Linked DNA regions of Homo sapiens. The protein of the gene in region 1 interacts with the protein of each later gene in a pairwise test. Each region holds a gene or a part of one and is shown on either strand. Other genes may lie near its edges. The genes, in order: SULT1C2 and HLTF.

Region 1 (4,538 bases):
GGAAGGAATAATTATCACCCTCATAAATGTGAGGAAGCTGAGAGTCACACGATCAATAACTTGCCCAGGATCGCAGCCAACATCTGTATACGAATCCTATGTTCCTTCTTTAAAAATTGCCTCTTGTTTTTTTTTATTGTGAATTTAAAGTTATACATTGCAGAAACTTTGGAAACAGTCCAAATGTACAAGGAAAACATCTATCACACAAGAGTTGTTATTATTTTGATGTATTTCTATCTGTCTTTTTCAAATGTATATTGTTGTAGGCAGAATAATGGCCCTAAAGATGTCCACGTCCTAATTCCTAATACATTACATTGTGTGGCAAAGGGCTTTGCAGATGGAATTTAGGTTAAGAACCTTAAGGCAATGAGCATGTCCTGTATTATCCCGGTGGGTCTAATGTGACCACAAGGGCACTTAAAAGTGGACAAGGGTGTAGAAGAGCAGTCAGAGAGTCGTGTGGCAGAAGAAGTGGCTGGAGAGTTTGGAAGCATGAGAATGACTCAACTTGCCATTGATGGCTTAGAGACAAAGGGGAACACAAGACAAGGCATGACCTCCAGAAGCTGAGAATGAACCTCAGCCAACAAGCAAATGGGACCTCCATCCTACAGCCACATGAATCTGAATTCTGCCAACAACCAGAATGAGCTTGGAAGGGATTCTTCTTCAGACCCTCCAGAAGGGAACGCAGCCCTGCCAACACCTTGATTTTACCCAGAGACACCTGTTTGGACTTCTGACTTACAGAGGTGTGAGATAATAAACTTGTATTGTCTTAAGCTGCTAAATTTTTGATAATTTGTTATGGCAGTGATAGTGATAGAAAACTGTTTATACATAGTTATGAACAAAAAGTATACATATATATAAACATAAAACTACAAAACACTTTTTGGATACTGCTGTGGTTTGGATGTGGTTAGTCCCCACCAAAACTCTCTGTTGAAGTTTAACTGCCAGTGTGGCAGTGCTAGGACACGGGGTCTTGTGAGAGGTGTTTGGGCCATAAGGGTGGATTCCACATGAGTAGATTAATGCCATCTCCCAGAAGTGGGTGAGTTTGGTCCCTTTATACATGCCTGCTTGCCTTTCTATTTCTTCACCATGTCTTGATGCAGCATGGCCCTCACGAGAAGCTGAGCAGATGCCAGCACCATGCTCTTGGACTTTTCAGCCACCAGAATCATGATTCAAAATAAACCTCTTATATTTATAAATTACCCAGCCTCAGGTATTTTGTTATAGCAACATAAAATGGACTAAGACGGACATTATCGTGGTTTGAATTGTGTCTCTCTAAGTTCATATGTTGAAGTCCTAATTCATAGTATATTAGCATGTGGCTGTATTTGGAGATAATGTCTTTAAATAGGTGATTAAGTTAAAATGAGGCTGCTAGGATGAGACCTATTCCAATCTGGTATCCTTGTAATGAGAGGAGATTAGGACACACAAGGCAACACCAGGGATGTGTGCACATGGAGGAAAGACCATGTAAGGACACAGTGAGAAGGTCCTCCATAGGGTGGGGGTGAGGGGATGGTGAGTCCAATTCTGGGGTTGAGTCTGATGTATTTATGGGACTTCCCAATGTACACCTGTAGGCAGGTGTACATGTGAGCTTAGGGCTCTGGCCTTGAACTAATGCCCTGAGAATAATCCACGCAACACATTGACCAACTCTGTGGTAGGCGTTGTGCTCTGGGCAGGTAGCTGATGACCGAGGGCCTGGGCACAGCTGTGAACATGTGTGGAAGGGCACCTGCTGCTGCTGAGGACCAGGGCGGTTAAGGGCTTGGCTGTCCAGTGAACTATGGATCCCACTGTATTGCTCTTGTTGGAGGCCTGCACGGGGAGTGATAGAACCTGGCTAAAGCTGGGAGAAGGAGATGCAGCAAGAGATTGAGGCAGCTGGGTAGTGCAGTGGGAGCAGAGGGATCTGCCAGTTCCCACAGGAGAAGTCCCAAGTCCTTCTCACCCTCCCCAGGCCCCTCATTGCTGGGCCACATCAGCACATGGTTCCTGCCCTTGGAGAGTCAGGCATGTAGACACATACATTTCCCCTTGAGCAGCCAGCAGGGACATTTTCATCATATCAGGCCAGATCACTATGGCCTCCTTTGTGGAGGCATCCCTGACTCTGTAAACAGAAGTAATCACTCCTTTCCATGGGATCCTATAGTATTTTGTGTGCAAATTTTATAGGTCTTACTCCACGTCCTACAATTACTTGCTTATAAGTCTGGACCCTTGGAGCACAGGATCTGGTTCAGTCCCCTTGCAGGCCCAGCATGTGTCTTAGTCAATGGCTGGCATAAGAGGAGGGCTGTCATGGAAGAAGAAATAGTCTTGGCCAGAGAAGTTGAGCTGGCCCTGGAGGAGGATGGGACAGGGAGGGTATTTGGGAAAAGATCAGGGTGGGAGACAGAGATAGTATTACAGGAGAGAGAGCTTTTGGAGGTGATTTGAGGGGGGTCCTGAATTTCTAGGTCTGAATTTTTAGGCTGGAGGCTGTTAACAAAACTCTTTTATATTATTTTATCAGATTCTTAGGATCTTTTCTGGTTTGAATAAATGCATCTGTAAAGCCACACCTATGTGGCTAAAGGTTAAAAAATAAATTAACGAGTTAGGTACAGAATTTCTTTTAAGCCATATTCTTACCTTCAAGTTCCAGCTGAAAGTCAGCAGCTCAAAGGCCCACTCAAGGGTCAGTGGGCACGGAAAGGACTTTCACAGGAAGCAGACGGCAATTGCAGAGGCTCAAATTACTACTGTGTCAGAGTTACGGGGGCGCTCAGCAGGTAGCCAGCACTTTGGGAGGCTCTCAGCTTCAGTGTGGGAAGTTGAAGCTTTTACTGGAAGAATCCGGATTGAACAGAAACAAACCCTGTGACCTGGCCCTGGGAGGGAGAACTTCTCACTGTACCATGATCACTCATGTGACCCTGACTGCTGTGCAAATACCAACTCCCTCTAGTTCATATGAACTAAGGGCACACTCTACTCCTCCTCTCGGTCACCAGCTAGAGTTTTTCACATCTTTCCTGGCCCTCAGCTGCCTGGCCCCTCCCTCCTCCCACTGGCCTCGAAGCTTAAACAGGTGGGGGCTGGGGGGAAATGGAAGGTTGGCTCTAGGACCAGATGCATCAGGCTTCAGGTAGGCTCCTGCTTATTTGGTGAACTCCCTTTTCCTTCCTCCTTAGCCTGAGATTTAATTTCTGCATCTATGAAGTGTGGGTAATACTGCCTGTCTCCAATCCATGCTTTAAGATTGAAAGCAACAATGTTGATGAATACACTTTGCAGAGCAAATAGTAAGTGCTTAAAACTGCTGGTTCTTCTTTCCTTTCTTCCCAAGTTGTATTCATCCACACCGAAAATGCAGAGAGGATAGAACAAAAGTCTAGAGCTTAGGTGTGTACTTATTTTTTCTTTGCCTTATTGTACAAAAGGTACACTTTAGTGGAGGCAGATTATATTCCATGGTGTCTTTGGTTACCTGGGAAATTAAATGGATCAAGTGTTAATGATCTCTGAACTGCTACTCTTCTGCCAGCCCCAACCTTGTATCTACCCCAGTGCTTTCCTTTCTGGAATTGAAGCATAATTCTGCACCCCATCTGCCCTTCTTGCCAAAGCTTTCCTTGTCTTCTTTGACCCTGAACCTCCTAATGCTTCTTTGCCGACACTTCTTCTTCCTCCTTGTTTCCAAAGGGCTCTTTTTTTCCCAATAAATTGAACTTTCTTTTTCTTTCTTTTTTCTTTTTTTTTTTTTTTTTGAGATGGTGTTTCACTCCTGTTGCCCAGGCTGGAGTGCAATGGTGCAATCTTGGCTCACTGCAACCTCCGCCTCCCGGGTTCAAGCGATTCTCCTGTCTCAGCCTCCTGAGTAGCTGGGACTACAGGCGTGCGCCACCATGCCCAGCTAATTTTTTTTTGGTATTTTTAGTAGAGACGGGGTCTCACCATGTTGGCCAGGCTAGTCTCCAACTCCTGCTCCCAGGTGATCTGCCCGCCTTGACCTCCCAAAGTGCTGGGATTACAGGCATAAGCCACTGCGCCCGGCTGAACTTTATTTTTCTACTTCTGCTCTCTTTCCAGTTCCACTTATCCCAGTGCTGTCAATTTTCAGCCCCATAGGGCTGATTCACAGTTCTTAGTGCAACCTCACATTTTCTCTGCAGTTAAAGTCCCTAAGTCTACTAAAGTGTCTGCCAGTATCGGTGCCATGCTGCGCTGCATGCTGCATCTCCCTGCCTTTGCTGTCTGCATGGGTCACAGTCTCTACAATCCCAGAATTTACAGTTAGTAACCACTGCTAGTATCTGCTTCCTCCACATTTGTGGAGGATGAACTGGGATGTTGCACAATCTTCTAGCAGTCTCCTTATTTCTGGTCTCTTCCCTACTAGTCTCTCATACTTTCAGCATATAAATTAAGCTCAGCTCAGATCAGGCTATCCTTTGGTTGTTTATGGCTCAAATTCTGGGTGCTTCCACTTGGAATTCAAGACCTTCTAAATTCAT
Region 2 (2,780 bases), on another chromosome or scaffold:
TATGACCTTTGGTTGTAAGACAAACTTGCCCACAACAGAGGTCAAATCCATGCCTTTGGAGATTAGCTCCATGGTGGATGGAGCTATGGTTTATGCATAAAGTAAATGTTTGTTTACCTTAATTCTCCTTATACCCATATTGTCCTGCTGTATAACACATTTTGCAGATATTTTGAAGTTAATGTGTTAAAAACTTGAGGTTAAACATTTGAGTTTTTGTTAAGAGCCAAACATCAAATGTGCCCTTATATTTTTAATGAATCTCATCCAAATGCTAATGCATAAACCTTGACAAGTAGTATAAATAAAACAAGAAAAAAATACAGCAATGTCTTTGCCATTCCCCAAAACAAAGCACACACTGCCGAAGATCATTAGTACTCACTGGTAACAAACTACATAGGGTTAGTTTGTATTTCCAATTCTAGAGCTGTAATTTTAAGGACAAAATGTACAATGATTGATTAAGAGTGCTATCTGTGTATATATAGGTATTATCACAACTCCTTTTTTTCTTCCAGATGAAGAAATTAATTGGGACCAATGTTTTTAGATCAAGGCATTTTAAATAAGCACTCTTGATTTCTGAACAAGAATTTCAACCAGCTAAATTGAGCAAAATAAAGTTAGTTAGGATATGAGGACATTATTCTGTTACAGTAATCTTCATGTACTCTCAAAAAAATGTAACACTTGCATAGAAATGTCACAATTAATGAAGGATTTTATTTGAAGATAAAGTCAAAATTATGGCACCGAGGAAGGTAATAAACATTTGAAATTTTTATTGATTTTTAAATTTAAAATCCAGTTTTAACCACAAAATTGTTTGAATCACAAGTGGTAATACAATGTCTTCAATATTTTTCTAAAGTTATTTTTCTATATAATAATAAGACAACAGCATAGCATATAGGAAGTTTTCATTCCAGTGGCTTTTTTATATATTTATCCTTCTTAGGAAGGACAAATTAAATTTTTTAAATTAAACTTTTAAAATATAACAACATCTAACAGAACTGTACAAAACAAAGAGACATTTTTTAAACAACTTGCCAAACTTACTTATGAGTGTGTTTTAAAAACAACTTTGTAAATGTCTGGGCAAAGAAGCAAGCTGTCCTCCCTTTACCTTCATAGTGAGTTTGTAAGGCTTTGTCTTTGTAAGCAGAAAGAGTAGACTGTGTTGTTTTTTGCCAAAAACTGTTTATACTTAATCTCACTGAAGTATTGCTATATGGAGAACCCATACTCTGATCAACTTGATTTTTTGTGTGTAATGCTTGATCTACCAGGTAACTTCCCAACTGCTCCTAATGCTAGCGGGCTAATCCCACATTATTATTCCACTATCATCCCTGCAGAAAGGTCTTGGTTTTGATGAAAATCAGCCCTTTCCTTACCTGCTACTGCCTCAAAAAGGGACCAGGAAGATTCTAGCTGGCTAATTCACTGTTCCCTTTGAGCAAGAAAACGGCACAGGGAGAAAAGGACTTATCTGGTGAGAGATTTGGCATATACCTTCAATGTGTGCCCTATAACACAACATTGTCTCCGATCTCATCTTTCTATCAAATGACTTCCAACACTCTTAAGTCTCAGGTATTCTTAAATCTGTATCATCAAACATGAAGCTTCTCTTGTTTGTTAGAGTAATTAATCTTTCTTTGGATTAAAGTTTCCCTTTGAAATAAAACCACCTACCTAATCTGACTGCTAAATTTCTAGCTTCTTTGTTTTAAATATGCTCAGGAGTCAACCCAAATTCTGCAGCAAATAAGTTTGCTTATTAACAAAAAAGTAAAAAAAAAAGAAAAGAAAAAAGATGACTAATTCTACAGATAGCTGTAAGGATGAATTACTCAAGTTCAAAATCAAATTCTGATTCTAAACACATAACAATTGTTTACATTCAGGATTAAGATGTCTTTAAGAGTTGAAACGACTTTGGAGATCATCCAGCCCAACTTCCATCCAGATATCACGCCTCTCACATATAGTAGTCTTCTGAATTATAAAAATTTATAAAGTTACTTCCAAAAAAAGCTACATAAATAAAAATTATCTATTTATAGAAATATCTATTTAGCAGTTCCATAATTTAAAATATTCAAATCAAATTGGGTAGGACTGGTTTGCCTCTCACTCCCACAGACTATATTTATACCTCAGACACAGCAAGTTACATTTAAACAATGAGTGTAGTACTACTTAACTAAAATGGAAAAAATAGTACTCTTAACATAATCCCTAATTTTTTCATGAACATAAAACTCCAAGTCATTTATGTGAACTATATCTCAATGTAGCTGTAGGAAAAATAAAAACCTGTGCTAACCTGGACTTTGGTCTCATTTAAGATTTGGTTCTGGAATGCAAATATGGTTTTTGAAAGCCCAATAAAATTAATTCTTGTATAGTCTGTATATATTGTTTACAAGGACTACAAACACTGCATCACAAATCGGAGGCTTTGGTAAATAACTAAGTGTCCAACATAGAAAATAACTATTTGGTCAAAAGTATAAAAGGTCTGACCTTATTTGAAATACGAAAAAGCTGAGTACTTGGAAGATACGTGAAAATACTCAGCATAGATATTATGAAAAGCTGAATAACAAAGTAACCTTTTTTCTCAAATTATTTCAGGCCACAGTATATAACGGAACTTATTGCTATTTGAAGTTTCATTAAAAATAGGTTCATATATAGAAGAAATTGTGTCAGTAATACCTCTTCACTAATATAAAATATGCCCCTTTTAGAAGACGTGTTCTCTA

What was found.
Region 2: the proteins of SULT1C2 (region 1) and HLTF interact in a two-hybrid assay, tested with the Homo sapiens proteins (one large-scale study listed by BioGRID and IntAct).

Annotation. Positions count from the first base shown.
Region 1 is NC_000002.12:108,287,206-108,291,743, reverse strand, and holds the start of SULT1C2 (sulfotransferase 1C2), read right to left. Parts: upstream 2,850-4,538; 5' UTR 2,674-2,849; intron 1-2,673. UniProt on the Homo sapiens protein: Sulfotransferase that utilizes 3'-phospho-5'-adenylyl sulfate (PAPS) to catalyze the sulfate conjugation of phenolic compounds. Does not transfer sulfate to steroids, dopamine, acetaminophen, or alpha-naphthol.
Region 2 is NC_000003.12:149,029,357-149,032,136, forward strand, and holds the end of HLTF (helicase-like transcription factor), read right to left. Parts: 3' UTR 771-2,780; downstream 1-770. UniProt on the Homo sapiens protein: Has both helicase and E3 ubiquitin ligase activities. Possesses intrinsic ATP-dependent nucleosome-remodeling activity; This activity may be required for transcriptional activation or repression of specific target promoters.